Linked DNA regions of Homo sapiens: region 1 is reported to be linked to region 2. The links are microRNA targets in miRTarBase. Many come from high-throughput screens and were not tested one by one. Region 2 holds a microRNA gene; the other region holds the end of a gene's coding sequence.

Region 1 (3,079 bases), not on the chromosome of region 2:
ACTCACACGGCAGAGAAGCCATATGAATGTAAGCAATGCAGGAAAGCATTCTTTTGGCCCTCTTTCCTTCTAAGACATGAAAGGACTCACACTGGAGAAAGACCCTATGAATGTAAACACTGTGGTAAAGCCTTCAGTCGTTCCAGTTTCTGTCGAGAACATGAAAGAACTCACACTGGAGAGAAGCCCTATGAATGTAAGGAATGTGGGAAAGCCTTCAGTTCTCTCAGTTCCTTTAATAGACATAAAAGGACACACTGGAAGGATATTCTATAAGTGTATGGAATGTGGGAAAGCATTCATTGGTTTTATCACATTCAGATACTTGAAAGAAATAAATCCTGTGAATGTAAACGTGGTAAAGCCTTAAGAAGTTTCCAGGCTGGGCGCAGCGGCTCACACCTGTAATCCCAGCACTTTGAGAGGCCGAGGAGGGCAGATCACGAGGCCAGGAGATCGAGACCAGCCTGGCTAACATGGGAAACCCTGTCTCTACTAAAAATACGGAAAAAAAAAAAAATAGCCAGGCATAGTTGCTCACACCTGTAGTCCTAGCTACTCAGGAGGCTGAGGCAGGAGAATCCCTTGAACCCGGGAGGTGGAGGTTGCAGTGAGCCGAGATTGCACTACTGCACTCCAGCTTGGGTGCTAGAGCGAGACTCCATCTCAAAAAAAAAAAAAAAAGTTTCCATTTCTTTCAAATAGAGTTGCTGCCTGCTATATGCAAGAAGATTGGTTCCAGTACACCCTGAGTATACCTAAATCCACAGATGCCAGCTCTTTTATAAAATGGAATATTCGCATGTACCTACCCACATTCTCCTGTATACTCTATAAATGTCTAGATTAATTAAAATATCTCATGCATTGTAAAAGCTGTGTACATAGTTGTATTGTTTAGGGAATCATAAGAAAAAAAATCTATATGTGTTCAGTACAGACCCAACCATTGCAGGCCTATCTACATCGTATATATCACCTATAATGTTACAGTTTCTTGTTTCAATACTCAGATTACTTTTGTCTAATGACCTGAAAGAATGTGTTAACACCAACCACAATTCTGGTTCTTCTCTCTTGATAACCCAAGTATTACGATGGTTATGACAATGATGATTGCTGTATGGTGCCTAATGTGATGTGTAGAGGTGACTAGATGTGTGGCATCATAGATAAACAGTGAGACCTCAGGCTAACTTGAATCTTGACAGGACATCAAGACCTTCATCTATGTTGGAAGACCCAGGTTCTGATTGAAGATGTTGACTCTTTGCAGGAGGCTAATACTAATGTCAGCATCTGTTCAGCTTGAGGGCTGAAGATGTTTGTGTTGAAGGGTATGTCTTCATATTTGCAGATATTTAGTTAGAAGCATTGTTTTAGGAAGCTAGTTCTTTTTCTTTGAATCCCTAAAAAAACCTTAGTGTTCATTAGCATATTTTCCCTTATATGACACAGAAGCTTTTTTCAATCAAAGGATGTTAGCTGAGGTTGATTATCTTTAACACTTGCAACTTGCAGAGGCTATAGATGCCCCAAGATCTGCTGCAAATTTTTCGCGTGTCCAAATCAATGGCACTGCTCCTCTTCTTAATCTTCTGCATCATCAGCAGCATCATCATCATCATCATCATCATCATCATCACTTGTAGAGGATTTCAGTATATCTTCAGTTTCCTTTCCACCAACTTTCTTTGCAACATTTAAGATATTCCTGACTGCTGTATCAGTCTTGGGGAAACCCCTGAAATCACTTACTCCCTCACTCCAATGGCTTCCAATATGCTTTGGGTGTCCTGGGCTTTAGGGCATCTACAGCCTCTGCAGTAAGCACAGTTGCATCTGCAATTGTGAAGCTCTTCCATAAGTACACTGTGGTACAGTCAGGGTTAGAATCAAGGCAACATAAATTGTATAAATATTGAGGTGGGGCTGGGCACACTTGTTCACACCTGTAATCCTAGCACTTTAGGAGGCTGAGGCAGATGGATCAACTTGAGGTCAAAAGTTTGATACCAGCCTGGTCAACATGGTGAAACCCCATCTCTACTAAAAATACAAAAATTAGCTGGGCCTGGTGTCATGCGCATGTAGTCCCAGCTACTTGGAAGGCTGAGGCAGGAGAATCACTTGAACCCAGGAGGCAGAGGTTGCAGTGAGCCAAGATCCTACCACTGCACTCCAGTCTGGGTGACAGAGTGAGACTCGGTCTCAAGAAGAAAAAAAAAAAGTTGAAATGGGTGTAAATTGCCTTAATCTGCTTGATGATCCTTGACCAAGTGGCTGTGGCAGCGATAACAGTGTTAGAAGGCAAGAACATCACTTACACTTTTTCATCAGCATAACAGAAAAATTAAATTTTTGTTTTGTATTGAACATGAGCTTTGCTGGATATACGATTCTTGGTTAAGCTATGTTTCATAGCAGAGCATGATGAGAGTGTGTGTGAGGCTTCCCACTGAAAGGAGGAATGGAACCTAAGAAAGAGCAAATGTATCTATTTTACCCTAGTTATTTATCATTACAGTAGTCAACTAATGTCACACAACAATGATCAATATGAAGAATGGGATGGAAGAAGCAAATAATGTGGTTGGAGATTATAGCATTGTCTTCTTAGGAGACTGAAGACAAAACAACTGGAAATCTATTAAAACTGTGAAGGAGTCAATTTGCTGCTTATGGAGTGAGCATATCCTGTATTCATGATAGCATATACTATTGACTTAAAATAATATTTCTTGCAAATATATATAAATTTCTGAGGATGGTACTAATGCCATATGCAACATCTATTTGTGGACAAGTATGAGTGTTTTCTGATGAGATGACCTAAGTATCACCTCCATGGATATATATATATACAACTTTGGTGGATTGAAGTCTCCTCATCCCAGTGCTCATTGGGGAGAAATCCCATAATGTAAGTAATTTGGGAAAATCCAATCCAAATTAACTCATGTATAGTGCTCCAGAAAATTTGCATCATCAAAGAAATGTTATAACATTTATAACTATTGGCCAGGTGTGGTGACACAACATCTGTAATTCCAGCACTTTGGGAGGCTGAGGTGGGAGG
Region 2 (3,158 bases):
CTGACAGCTACCAAGAGTAAGCGTTCCAAGAGACAGGCATGTCCTTTTATGACCTAGCTTTAGGAGTCACGTAGTATCACTTTCTCTGTACTCCACTAGTAGAAGCCATCATAAGCCTACCCAGATTTAAGCAGTGGGGACAGGGGGACATGTAGACCCCACCTGCCAAAGGGTAGACCTGTTAAAGAATTTGTAGGAAATTTCTATAAAACCACTACACTAGGATTATGGCACCACACTGGGATTATGTTTCCATCTGGGGATAAATTAGGGCCGCTGGCTTCTACCTATAGCAAAGCAGGCCATACAGACTCTTGCAGCTACTTAATCTGCCATTGTAAAATGAAAGCAGCCGTAAACAATATGTAAACAAATGATCATGTTCCAATAAATATTAACAGTAAAATTAGAATTTCATGTAACTACTAAATATTAAAAATATTCTCCTTTAAAAAACATTTAAAAGTGTAAGAATCATTCTTAGCTCATGGCCTATGTAGAAAGAGGCAGTGGACCAGATTGGAATATCTTGAGTTTAGCTAGATCTGACTCTTCAAAGTTAGAATCCTCCAAATGTGTAGAAGAAACCCTTGGGTATTTCTCAAGTGGAATTAAGAGTGTGTGTGTGAGAGAGAAGGACATATGACTACAAATTTTGTTTTTATTTTAAAGTGAATTTGTGAAGATATTTCAAAATTTAGTTCTTTTAATTACATCTTATGTTCATTATGTTACAAAACATTTATTCCCAAGGGCAATAAAGGACTATGCACTTAATACTCCTATGTGGGAAATTAATGATATTTACTTTATCAGAAGTCAGGACCTACAAAGAAAAGGTAGAACTTGCTTCTTGATGGAGCTTCCAGAAATACATATTGTTGTATATTTTAAAAATAAGTATGTTTTAAAAGAGTTGATTATTAGAACAGAAGATAAGGTTGATGACTCTCAGGAATGAATTTTTAAAATCTTTATCACTTCATTAAATATTTTTTCTATGTCTATAATGCCAGGCAGTGTGCTAGAGCCTGAAGATACAGTGGTGAACAAAAACATATATCGTATGTTATCTTTTAACATCTGGCTATCTCACGAGACTGTATGTCCTAACAGTGCTTGTAGTCTCATGAGATAGCCAGATGTTAAAAAAAAAAAACAGCATCAAATTTAATGTGTGTTATGAGATGGCTTATGCAGGGCATTATGAGAATATAAGGTTTTCAAGCTGGGCCTATTGCTCTGACACCCTCTACTGCCCACTGAATGTGAAAGTCTAGGAAAAGAGGGTTGTTAGATTAGTTGCAAGCTGCTGTTTAAAAACCACGTTAACACGTTTGATAATGAGTGAATAGTCCTCTCTCCATATCTAGGCCACGTGTGATGGCCTGTTTAATATTGCTTTGGGGAAGGAAAAACAAAGAATGAAAAAAATTGCAGTTGTTGAAATGTACAGGATTTTTTTTCCCTGATAAGTTATCATTTTGGATGGGTGGAGAATTCAAATAGAAGAACAGTTTGGAACCTATTGACTGAATTACAAATTGGGATAATTTACTGATTTTTCTCTCAATCAAAGTTTTTCTGGGTGACAAAATCATTTGTACAGCAAACCCTAGTAACGTGCAATTTATCCATGTAACAAATGTGCTCATGTACCCCCGAACCTAAAATAAAAATTGGAAAAGAAAAAATAAATTGGTCAGAATCATACCCAAGAATAGCCCTTAAATAAAACATCTGGTTAATAATTATTTGACTGCAATCAGAGGATACTGCTAAAGATTTTTAGAGGACCCCTGAAAGGGTTATATTAATATCCTTAATAAAATGTGAATTTTTTGCTTAAAAAGTGATTTTCCAACACCTGTTAAAAAAGCAATCAATCGAGGTTTCAAGGTTTCTCATCTGGGCCATTAGTGGCATTTGAACCAGATAATTCTTGGTTTTGGGGTGCTGTCCTGTGCATTGTAGGATGTTTAGGAGAATCCCTGGCCTCTATCTATCTACTTTGCAGCATTCTCCACCAAGTTGTGACAATCAAAATTTTCTCCAAATGTCCCCTGAGGGTGGCAAAACCAACAGTTGTCTAAATTAAACTGGGTTTATATGTTTTAATTCAATGACCTCAATGAGGAAAACCTACTTTATTTTAATAGTAAGAAGTCTAGGTCAGGGAGTATTGTGAGTCATTTTGTACATTTCCAAGACCCACAACTCCTCCTTTGAAAATGATAAAATGAATTTGGACAACCCATTATCCAATTAAACATTATACTCATATCCCTTTGTTATGTCTGGAAGTTTTTCTAAACTTTATAGTTTATATAATTTCTAGCAAGGCTGAGAACCTCAGTTATTTAATTGAGACCCTGAAAGCTATAGAATATCCCTGGAACAAAATCAAGATTTAAAATTGGCTTGAAAATAACAAATGAAGATATTTTGATTTGACTCCATGTTCTCAGCCTGGAAGCTATTGGATTGTGTGAGACGCATGACCCAAAGGAGATGATTAGTTTTCCTCCAGTGTGATGATAATGAATAGCACTACAAAACCAATTAGCTATAATTCTATCAGTCATTTCCTTTGGGTAACATTTTGTTTAAAGGGAAGAAAAAACAACACAGTTTTCCTTGGAGATCTTTGATGAAGCTGTGGTATTTGATGGGAACAATGGAGGAAAAAGCAGTATGCTTACCAATTTGCTTTTATTATTCCTGCATGAAAGTAAATCATGATGAAGTGTTCTGTTCACAGCAGTTAAGAAAGACATTTGTTCATCTTAAAGGTGTAGCAGACCAAACACAAGTATATTTCTAAGTGTGCATTTCATTTATATGGATTGTACAACTCCAAGGAATTGCCATTCACATGGAAGACTGAGAATGGTGTCCCCTGGGACTGTGTAGCAGGAGACACTGAATGTTGTTTCCTTTCCTTCTGTTATTATCCCCCTTGAAAAACCGTGAACCCAGAACCACAAGTAACAGATAATGTCTCTCCTCTTTATTCTCCCAGTCATTGTCGTTGCTCTGTAACACACAATGCCCACTGTCATGCTGACAATAATGTCAACAGTCTTTGTTTTCCTTTTTCCAGCAAGGTATTTTATGGATAGGTATTGTTCTATTTAACGTGCCGTCATCTGTTACAA

What was found. Region 2 holds the annotated microRNA hsa-miR-4794 (UCUGGCUAUCUCACGAGACUGU, at 1,083-1,104, shown strand). A microRNA usually pairs through its seed, bases 2 to 8, with sites in the 3' UTR of a target mRNA and lowers its output. Matches are read on the target gene's strand: a 7mer-m8 pairs with bases 2 to 8, a 7mer-A1 pairs with bases 2 to 7 and ends in A, and an 8mer does both.
Region 1: miRTarBase lists ZNF44 as a target of hsa-miR-4794. Seed matches in the 3' UTR shown: 7mer-m8 at 521-527.

What each region holds. Positions count from the first base shown.
Region 1 is chr19:12,269,604-12,272,682 of GRCh38, reverse strand. It overlaps ZNF44 (zinc finger protein 44), which reads left to right. Exons shown (of 4, transcript NM_016264.4): 4 at 1-875. The coding sequence ends at 276. Among named protein-coding and RNA genes, the nearest start is that of ZNF44, 24 kb to the left of the region's middle.
Region 2 is chr1:64,578,773-64,581,930 of GRCh38, forward strand. It overlaps MIR4794 (microRNA 4794), which reads left to right and starts at 1,075; the gene lies at 1,075-1,151. All of the region lies in intron 2 of CACHD1 (cache domain containing 1), which reads left to right. It overlaps LOC124904195 (a long non-coding RNA gene), which reads left to right. Exons shown (of 2, transcript XR_007066150.1): 2 at 1-1,072.